Linked DNA regions of Homo sapiens: region 1 is linked to region 2. The links come from fine-mapping of genetic effects on gene expression. A gene starts in region 2. The other region holds a variant in brackets. All regions are shown on one strand. Distances are between the middles of the regions. Region 1 overlaps IHO1 (interactor of HORMAD1 1). Region 2 holds the start of DALRD3 (DALR anticodon binding domain containing 3).

What was found.
Region 1: its variant is fine-mapped to the expression of DALRD3 in whole blood (TOPMed, PIP above 0.99).

Annotation. Positions count from the first base shown.
Region 1 is chr3:49,208,722-49,214,044 of GRCh38, reverse strand. It overlaps IHO1 (interactor of HORMAD1 1), which reads right to left. Exons shown (of 8, transcript NM_001135197.2): 2 at 2,209-2,279. The coding sequence starts at 2,264. Among named protein-coding and RNA genes, the nearest start is that of IHO1, 12 kb to the right of the region's middle. The variant TTG/G (reference allele first, on the strand shown) is at 2,439.
Region 2 is chr3:49,015,670-49,020,986 of GRCh38, reverse strand. DALRD3 (DALR anticodon binding domain containing 3) reads left to right here and starts at 2,407. Exons shown (of 12, transcript NM_001009996.3): 1 at 2,407-2,587; 2 at 2,669-2,964; 3 at 3,118-3,374; 4 at 3,474-3,553; 5 at 3,631-3,759; 6 at 4,140-4,213; 7 at 4,314-4,375; 8 at 4,476-4,558; 9 at 4,647-4,829; 10 at 4,901-5,014; 11 at 5,115-5,183; 12 at 5,280-5,317. The coding sequence starts at 2,423. It overlaps WDR6 (WD repeat domain 6), which reads right to left. Exons shown (of 6, transcript NM_018031.6): 6 at 5,036-5,317. MIR425 (microRNA 425) reads left to right here and starts at 753; the gene lies at 753-839. MIR191 (microRNA 191) reads left to right here and starts at 278; the gene lies at 278-369. It also overlaps a transcript of NDUFAF3 not described here. RefSeq lists a silencer at 3,177-3,411 and enhancers at 2,860-3,631, 3,917-3,986.

The DNA.
Region 1 (5,323 bases), 190 kb before region 2:
CAGCAGATACAGAAGAGATGAAGAGAAGAAGAGTCTGTATGAGGTACCTCTGAGAGGTGACAGCATGCTGGCAGCCCTCGCTTGCTCTCGGAGCTTCCTTGGCCTTGGCGTCCACTCTGGCCATGCTTGAGGAGCCCTTCAGCCTGTCGCTGCACTATGGGAGCCCCTCTCTGGGCTAGCCGAGGTCAGAGCCAGCTCCCTCTGCTTGCAGGGAGGTGTGATGGAGAGGCACGGGCAGAAACCAGGGCTGCGCATGCACTTGCGGGCCAGCTCGAGTTCCAGGTGGGCATGGGCTTGGCAGGCCCTGCACTCAGAGCAGCCAGCCTGCGCCGCTGGCCCCAGGCAGTGAGGGGCCTAGCACCTGGGCCAGCAGCTGTGGAGGGTGCACCGGGTCCTCCAGCAGTGCCGGCCCACCATGGGCTCCTACGTGGCCCCAGCCTCCCTGACTAGCACTGCCCCCTGCTCCGTGGTGCCCGGTCCCATCGACCACCCAAGGGCTGAGGAGTGTGGGCACATGGTGTGGGACTGGCAGGCAGCTCCGCCTGCGGCCCCAGTGCAGGATCCACTAGGTGAAGCCAGCTGGGCTCCTGAGTCTAGTGGGGACTTGGAGAAACTTTATGTCTAGCTAAAGGATTGTAGATACACCAATCAGCACTCTGTGTCTAGCTCAAGGTTTGTAAATGCACCAATCAGCACTCTGTATCAGCTAATCTGGTGGGGACTTGGAGAACCTTTATGTCTAGCTAAGGAATTGTAAATACAACAATCAGCACTCTGTGCCTAGCTCAAGGTTTGTAAATGCACCAATCAGTGCTCTGTGTCTAGCTAATCTAGTGGGGACTTGGAGAACCTTTATGTCTAGCTAAGGGATTGTAAATACAACAATCAGCACTCTGTCTAGCTCAAGGTTTGCAAACACGCCAATCAGCACCCTGTGTCTAGCTCAAGGTTTGTAAATGCACCAATCAGTGCTCTGTGGGGACTTGGAGAACTTTTGTGTCTAGCTCAGGGATTGTGAACACACCAATCAGCACCCTGTCAAAACGGACCAATCAGCTCTCTGTAAAACAGACCGATCAGCTCTCTGTAAAATGGACCAATCAGCAGGATGTGGGTGGGGCCAGATAAGGGAATAAAAGGAGGATGCCCGAGCCAGCAGTGGCAACCAGCTCCGATCCTCTTCCACACTGCGGAAGATTTGTTCTTTCACTCTTTGCAATAAATCTTGCTCCTGCTCAATCTTTGGGTCCGCACTGCCTTTATGAGCTGTTAACACTCACCGCAAAGGTCTGCAGCTTCACTCCTGAGCCAGCAAGACCCCAAACCCACCAGAAGGAAGAAACTCCAAACACATCCAAACATCAGAAGGAACAAACTCTGGACATGCCGCTTTTAAGAACTGTAACACTCACCGCAAGGGTCTTTGGCCTCATTCTTGAAGTCAGTGAAACCAAGAACCCACCAATTCTGGACACACTTCCATTATTATAACCTGATGGGAAGGGAACCCTCTTTTTTTTTTTTTTTTTGAGATTGAGTCTCACTCTGTTGCCCAGGCTAGAGTGCAGTGGCGCAATCTCAGCCCACCACAAGCTCCGCCTCCCAGGTTCAAGCAGTTCTCCTGCCTCAGCCTCCCCAGTAGCTGAGATTACAGGTGCACACCACCTTGCCTGGCTACTCTTTGTATTTTTTTTTTTAGTGGAGATGGGGTTTTGCCACGTTGGCCAAGCTAGTCGTGAACTCCTGATCACCTCAGGTGATCCACCCACCTGGGCCTCTCAAAGTGCTGGGATTATAGGCGTGAGCTACCATGCCTGACCAGGAACCCATTTTCTATGAAATCAATGAAACTGGAAAATCCTTTTTTTTTTTTTTTTTTTTGAGACGGAGTCTCGCTCTGTCGCCCAGGCTGGAGTGCAGTGGCGCAATCTCGGCTCACTGCAAGCTCCACCTCCCAGGTTCACGCCATTCTCCTACCTCAGCCTCCTGAGTAGCTGGGACTATAGGCACCCGCCACCATGCCCGGCTAAATTTTTTTGTATTTTTAGTAGAGACGGGGTTTCACCGTGTTAGCCAGGATGGTCCTGATCTCCTGATCTTGTGATCTGCCCACCTTGGCCTCCCAAAGTGCTGGGATTACAGGTGTGAGCCATCATGCCCGGCCAGAAAATCCTCTTAAGGATCAGACAATATAACCAGAAAACTTACCCAGAGCCTGAAGGAATACTGAGCATCTCTTTGATATTCCAGACATTAAAATTCATTTCTTATAGTTATACCTATTAGAAAGAATAGGTGAATATTAAGAAAGTTAACAGTATAATTTTTTCCAAAGATTACTAGTGACTATTATATGTACACGAAGACATTCCAGCAGCTATATTCCCATCCAATTAGTGAAAATTTCTGTTTTTTTTTTTTGAGACGGAGTTTTGCTC[TTG/G]TCACCCAGTCTGGAGTGCCGTGGCTCGATCTTGGCTCACTGCAACCTTTGCCTCCTAGGTTCAAGCAATTCTTCTGAGTAGCTGGGATTACAAGCACCCGCCACCACACCTGGCTAATTTTTGTATCATGCCACTGTCTCAAAAAAAATAAGTAAATAAATAGAAACACAAAACCATTTATATTTGCACCCCCAAAAAAGAAATACTTAGGTATAACTGTGACAAAATATATACAATATCTATATGAGGAAAACTACAAAACTCTGATGACAGAAATCAAATTAGAACTAAATGGAAGCCGGGCGCAGTGGCTCACGCCTGTAATCCCAGCACTTTGGGAGGCCGAGGAGGGCGGATCACTAGGTCAGGAGATCAAGACCATCGTGGCTAACAGGGTGAAACCCCGTCTCTACTAAAAAATACAAAAAATTAGCCAGGCGTGGTGGTGGGTGCCTGTAGTCCCACCTACTCAGGAGGCCGGGGCAGGAGAATGGCATGAACACAAGAGGTGGAGCTTGCAGTGAGCCGAGATCGCGCCACTGCACTCCAGCCTGGGCGACAGAGCGAGACCCCAGCTCAAAAAAAAAAAAAAAAAAACTAAATGGAGAGGCCAGGAGCAGTGGCTCACATGTGTAATCCCAGCACTTTGGGAGACCGAGGCGGGTGGATCACTAGGTCAGGAGATCCAGACCATCCTGGCTAACATGGTGAAACCCTGTCTCTACTAAAAATACAAAAATTACCTGGGTGTGGTGGGACGTGCCTGTAGTCCCAGCTATTTGGGAGGCTGAGGCAGGAGAATTGCTTGAACCCAGGAGGCAGAGGTTGCAGTGAGCCAAGGTCACACGACTGCACTCCAGCCTGGGGCGACAGAGTGAGACCCCATCTCAAAAAAAAAAAAAAAAAGCCGGGCGCAGTGGCTCACGCCTGTAATCCCTGCACTTTGGGAAGCAGAGGCAGGTGGATCATTTGAGGTCAGGAGTTTGAGAACAGCCTGGCCAACATGAAGAAACCCTGTCTCTACTAAAAATACAAAAAAATTAGCTGGGTGTGGTGGCGGGTGCCTGTAATCCCAGCTACTCAGGAGGTTGAGGAGGAGAATCACTGGAACCGGGGAGGCAGAGGTTGCAGTGAGCCAAGATCGTGCCACTGCACTCCAGCCTGGGCGATCGAGTGAGACTCTGCCTCAAAAAAAAAAAATTAGCAGGGTGTGGTGGCACAAGCCTATAGTCCCACCTACTTGGGAGGCTGAGATGGGAGGATCACTTGAGCCCAAGAGGTCAAGGCTGTAGTGAGCTAAGATTGTGCCACTATACTCCAGCTTGGGCGACGAAGAAAAAAAAAATCTCAAAAAATTATCTCTCAAACTATGTCAAAAAATTAAAAATAAAAAATTTAAATAAATAAACAAGCTAGGCATGGCAACATACACCTGTAGTCTCAGCTACTTGGGAGGCTGAGGCGGCAGGATCACTTGAGCCCAGGAATTCAAGGCTTCTGTAAACTGTGATCCCACCACTGCATTCCAGCCCAGGCAACAAAGCAAGACCCTGTCTCTTAAAAAAAAAAAAAAAGAAAGAAAGAAAGAGGCTGGGTGCGGTGGCTCATGCCTGTAATCCCAGCACTTTGGGAGGCCAAGGCAAGTGGATTACGAGGTCAGGAGATCGAGACTATCCTGGTTAACACGGTGAAACCCTGTCTCTACTAAAACAATATAAAAAATTAGCCGGGCATGGTGGTGGGCTCCTGTAGTCCCAGCTACTTGGGAGGCTGAGGCAGGAGAATGGCATGAACCCGGGAGGCAGAGCTTGCAGTGAGCCGAGATCACACCACTGCACTCCAGCCTGGGCGACAGTGCAAGACTCCTTCTCAAAAAAAAAAAGACATGTCATTTGCTTTTTGCAAATACATATAAACCTCAAAATACCTTATACTCATGGAATTAGAAATACAAGCCTTTTTTTTTTTTAGATGAAGTCCCACTCTGTCACGCAGGCTGGAATGCAGTGGTGTTATCTTAGCTAACTGCAACCGCTGCCTCCCGGGCTCAAGCTATTCTCCTGCCTCAGCCTCCTGAGTAGCCGCAATTACAGGCATGTGCTGTCACTCCTGGCTAATTTTTTTTTTTTTTAAGTAGAGACAGGGTCTCACCATGTTGACCAGGTTGGGCCGAACTCCTGACCTCAAGTGATCCACCTGCCTTGGCCTCCCAAAGTGCTGGGATTACAGGCGTAAGCCACTGTGCCCAGCCAGAAATGCAAGCATTTAAAAGGCCCTTATAGTTCCAGGTATCTGACAGTGTGCCAGCATCAAAGGGGTGAGTCTAAGGAGGTCCTGTATGACTAGAAGGTAAAAAAGGTAGTCTCTCTCAGTCTACATGACCAAACTCCCCCCTTAATGTTGAGAATGAAACCAGCAACTCCAGTTAACTGGATTAAACAGGAGAGATTCAATATATGTGTGGTAGAAGATGAAGTAACATTTCTTCCTTTTGATTAGTTATCCTGCCTTTACTTGTGCAGCATGTCTGTGTTTACCACATGGTTTACCCAAGCCTGAGATGTCCATCTTCCCAGAATTCAACCAGAAGAAAGATGTCCTACAAAGGTCAGGAAGCTGTCAATTATATTCAGTCATGACTGTTCAACCCCTACCACACAAGAGGTCTTTAGATCATCCAATTTTATACTTTCTATGAAGTATGGAGTTTTCCAATGGTTTACATAAAAAGTACACTGTTCCTTGCTCTTGAGTGGATCAAGCCCCATGTACCCTCTCTGTTGGTAGTGGATTTTGAGATGTCGATGTTTAGATTTACAAAGGTTGCAACTCTGGACAGCATAAGTGGGGAAAACAGAATAGGAGCAAAGTAAGCAAGTTCT
Region 2 (5,317 bases):
CCCGCCCCACCACCGTCACCGCACCAGTGGCCCAGGCTTCGTGGGACCAACAGGGCTAATCCTGCCCCACGGATCTAATCCGGATCGGGACCCGGTCCCAGGGGAGGCCCCCACCTCCCCTTCTATTGTTCTGTGGCCCAGGTGAGCGTCTTGTTCCCTCTAGACTCCGTTTCACAACCTACTCCCGGGTCTTCCTCCTGGGACTGGGGATGGGCGGGTTCTGATGTGGCCCCAGGGCGAGTGACCTGGGGGCAGGAGCTCCCCCGCCCCCCGCCAACGGCTGGACAGCGGGCAACGGAATCCCAAAAGCAGCTGTTGTCTCCAGAGCATTCCAGCTGCGCTTGGATTTCGTCCCCTGCTCTCCTGCCTGAGCAGCGCCCTGGCCCAGATGGGGTGCCCCTGACCCCCAGACATACTTTACTGAGCTGCTTGGGTCTCAGTTCCTCTCAGTTGCGCCCTCAGGCTGGAGGTGATGGGTGTAGACGTGGGAGAGCCGAGGCTGGTGGCCATCTCTGGAACCCTGGGGAGGATTGGCGAGGGAGGGTGGACCCAGGACCTCTGGGTAGGGCTGCAATGGTAGTGACTCCCCCAGGGCTGCCTCAGCCCGCATCTCGCTAAAGATAGCCCTCTTACTTCCTGGGGAAAAACCACCCCAACCGTCTTCGTGGATGAGAGTATCTGAAGTCCTCAGTTTGACTGAGGGTTCCCAACCCTGCTAAGCAGTTGTCTCCAGGTCATGCACCTTCAGAATGGAAAGCGCTTTGGAATGACACGATCACTCCCGTTGAGTGGGCACCCGAGAAGCCATCGGGAATGTCGTGTCCGCCCAGTGCTCTTTCGGCGCCTCCCAGCAGGGCCTCAGCCCTGGCCCAGAAAGGGGCCTTGCCAAGCTTTTCCTGCCCCTGGGTTTCCCTGCTCTCCGGATTTCCCAACTCTCTCTACTGAGTTAGCTTCTCTATTAAAAGGAATGGGGGTGGGGTGGGGGGTGAGTAAGTTACAGTGAAATGAAGACATTTGGGAACCTTTGTGGGAGAAAGAAAAAGACCTTTCCTATTGGTAGAGGAGCAAGATACTCCAACTGAGGCCTATTTTCTATTATGGTCGCATTATTTGGTTGGCCCGTAAATGGCTGTTGCCTAAAACAGGAAGCTTTAAGGATCGTTGTTAAAGCACACCAGGTTAAAGGAGTCACATTAAAAGCTGGTCATTCTGAGCCGGGCGCGGTGGCTCACGCCTGTAATCCCAGCACTTTGGGAGGCCGAGGCAGGCGGATCACCTGAGGTCGGGAGTTCGAGGCTTGACAAACATGGAGAAACCCCGTCTCTATTAAAAATACAAAAGTAGCCGGGCGTGGTGGCGCGTGCCTGTAATCCCAGCTACTTGGGAGACTGAGGCAGGATAATCACTTGAACCCGGGAGGGGGAGGTTGCGGTGAGCCAAGATCACACCACTGTACTCCAGCCTGGGCAACAGGAGCGAAACTCCGTCTCAAAAAAAAAAAAAAAAAGTCTGGTAATTCTGGAAGCCATCATGATGGTTGTGATTTCTCAGGTATCAAGAGAAGAAAACCGCCAACTGTATCAGAGTGCTTATTTATTGGGCATAAAGACCACCCGGGCTGGGTGCAGTGGCTGATGCCTGTAATCCCAGCACTTTCGGAGGCCGAGGCGGGCAGGTCACGAGGTCAGGAGTTCGAGACCAGCCTGGCCAACATGGCGAAACCCCGTCTCTACTAAAAATACAAAAATTAGCCGGGCGTGGTGGCGGGCGCCCGTAATCCCAGCTACTCGGGAGGCTGAGGAGGAGAATCCTGTGAATCCGGGAGGTGGAGGCTGCAGTGAGCCGAGATCGTGCCACTGCACTCCAGCCTGGGAGACAAGAGCAAGACTCCGTCTCAAACAAACAAAAAAACACCCATATCTCAAACGAGAAAATGCTTGCAAATAACCTGAAACCGCGGAACACTATTCTTTTTAAAACGAGATATTTTAAGTAGGTCGTGAAAGTGGCCTTAATGTTATACTGCCTTATTCCAGTGACGAATATTCATCATGTGTAAAATGGGAGAAATGAAATGTTATTAAAACAAACATGTGAGACTTCGATGAGAAGAGACGGTACCCGGTCTAAGCGCCCACCGGGTCGCGAGGATCCTTTTCCTGGTTAAGGCCTGGGTCACAGCGAAAGAACCCTAGGCCCAGGGAGGGCCCCGAGATTTCAGATCCGGGGCCCGGCTGTGCAGGTGGACCACGCGGAAGGGGCGCTGGGGGCGGTAGGTCGAAAGCAGCCGACAGGGCTACCACTGGCGCACCTGTCCACTTACGGGGACCACCGCCGCATCCCCGCCCCAGCTAGTCGGTCCTTTCCGGAAGTTCCACCTCCCTAAATTTTTTTCCGGTTCCGCTTACTCCTTCCGGTCACCATGGCGACCAGGCGCCTTGGGGTCGGGGAGACGCTGGGGGCCCTCAACGCGGCCCTGGGGCCAGGCGGTCCGGTGTGGATCAAGGAGACGCGCACCCGCCACCTGCGTTCCCGAGACTTTCTGGCACCGCACCGCGCGCTGCAGGCGCGCTTCGATGACGGCCAGGTGGGCGTGAGCCGGGCGGGGCCGTGCGGCCGGGAGATGGGCCCCGTGCCGTGGCTCTTTTACACGCCCGTTCTCCCGCAGGTTCCGGAGCATTTGCTCCATGCCCTCGCCTGCCTGCAGGGCCCCGGTGTGGCCCCGGTGCTGCGCTGCGCGCCGACCCCCGCGGGTCTGTCTCTCCAACTGCAGCGGTCCGCCGTCTTCGAGCGCGTCCTCAGCGCCGTGGCCGCCTATGCCACGCCCGCCTCGCCTGCCTCGCTGGGCCAGCGCGTCTTACTACACTGCCCAGCACTGCGCAGCTCCCCCTGCGCACTCCGCTTGAGCCAGCTGCGTACGGTGCTCGTGGCCGATCACCTGGCGCGAGCCCTGCGCGCTCACGGGTGAGCGGGGCCGCGGGGCCGGAATGGAGAAAGTGGGACTGCCGGGTACCTAGAAAGCGAGCGGCGCCGCCCGTGGGGACTGCGGCTGGAGGTGGGAAGTCGTGGCGAGCTGGACCAGGTGCTCAGACTGAGGCGGCCGCCCTCCCTTCGCAGGGTGTGCGTGCGCCTAGTGCCAGCTGTGCGGGATCCGCACATGCTGACCTTCCTGCAGCAACTGCGGGTGGACTGGCCCGCTGCCTCGGAGAGAGCTTCCTCCCACACCCTGAGGAGCCACGCCCTTGAAGAACTTACCTCTGCTAATGACGGGAGGACACTGTCCCCTGGCATCCTAGGCAGACTGTGTCTGAAGGAGCTGGTGGAAGAACAGGGCCGCACAGCTGGCTATGACCCCAACCTGGACAACTGTCTGGGTAGGACCTGAAGCCTAGCAGGGCCAGAAAAGGCAGGAGGGGGTTAGGGGCACATCTCTGCTTCTTGTCAGTCTCAGCACCTGTCTGTTCTCTTTTCAGTGACTGAGGATCTCCTCTCTGTGCTGGCTGAGCTGCAAGAGGCTCTATGGCATTGGCCCGAGGACAGCCACCCAGGCCTGGTTAGTGACTCCCAGCCCTGTAGGTTCTCCCAAACCAAGTATACTGTACTTCCACAGTTATGATTGTCCTCCCTTAGGCTGGGGCCTCAGATACTGGTACAGGCGGCTGCCTGGTTGTACATGTTGTTAGCTGTGAGGAGGAGTTCCAGCAACAGAAGTTGGACCTGCTTTGGCAGAAGTTGGTTGACAAGGCTCCACTCAGACAGGTAGGTTAATAATGATGGTGGAGCTCCCCACCACCTAACCCCCAACCTCAGAGGGCCCTTGAAAACCCACCGAGGGGCTTGTTAGCTGACAGAAACCAACACTTGACCTTGGGGGAGTTGCTGGACTTGAGAGGGCATGTACAGCAGGTGCAGAGGCTCTGGGGAAGGGGGGTCTGTAGACACATCCCAAGAACACTGAAGACCAGGTTGAGAAGGATGAACCATGCGTAGCCTGAGTGGCTGGGTAGACGGAGGCACTCAACCTGGCAGTTCCAATTTGAGGGAGTCTGGGCTGAGTAGAGGCACCAGATTTGGGCTCCTCAAGGGACTTCCTGGAGAGTAGCGCCAACTAGGCTGAGCCCCTGACATCTTTCTGACAGAAGCACCTCATCTGTGGCCCTGTGAAAGTAGCTGGTGCACCTGGCACTCTGATGACTGCCCCTGAGTACTACGAGTGAGTGAGGCTGGGAGGAACACCAACCTAAGCCAGGGTAATGAGGGGGGACTCTTTACCCAGGACCCTGCCCACTGGCCTTCCTCTCTTCCAAACACAGGTTCCGGCATACCCAGGTGTGCAAGGCCTCAGCACTGAAGCATGGTGGGGATCTGGCACAAGGTGTGCCTGGGAAACCCTGGCTATGTTCTGGGTTAGGGGCAGGTTTTTTGCATCCCTGCCCTTGCCTGCAGACTGACTGACCAACCCTATACTCCCTCAGACCCAGCCTGGACAGAGATCTTTGGTGTTCTCTCTGTGGCCACCATCAAGTTTGAGATGCTGAGCACAGCCCCACAGAGTCAGGTGAGCCTGGGAGCCTGACAGGGCCAGTGTTGGGGCACAGGGTGTGGTGGCTGCCTTCTCTCTCTGCAGCTGTGCTTCTATTCCCCAGCTCTTCCTGGCTCTGGCTGACAGCAGTATCTCCACGAAGGGCACAAAGAGTGGCACCTTTGTCATGTATAATTGTGCCCGTCTTGCCACACTCTTTGAGAGTTACAAGTGTAGTATGGAACAAGGTCTGTACCCCACTTTTCCTCCTGTGAGCAGTCTGGACTTCTCACTGCTACATGATGAGGTGAGTGTCCCTCCTGGTAGCTGGCACAAGGAGGCCTGGACTTCCCCTCCCAGCACCTTTCTCCCCAACAGGGTGAGTGGTTGTTGCTCTTCAACAGTATCCTCCCCTTTCCGGATCTGCTGAGCCGGACAGCAGTGCTGGACTGCACAGCCCCGGGGCTCCACATTGCTGTACGCACAGAGATGGTGAGGCATAGACAACCAGGACACTCTACACTCTATTCTTTATTCTGGCCTGGGGCACAAGAGCAAAGAGATGGGCCAGTGACTCAGTCTCTGTCTCTAGATATGCAAGTTCCTGGTACAGCTCAGCATGGATTTCAGCTCCTACTACAACCGGGTACACATCCTGGGGGTGAGCACACAGCAAAATGGGGTGGGACGTGCAGAGAGGTATAGGGTAAAGGCAAAGGAAGCAGAGGATGAGACCAGCAGGCCCTTTCTCTTTCAGGAGCCTCGACCACACCTCTTTGGTCAGATGTTCGTCCG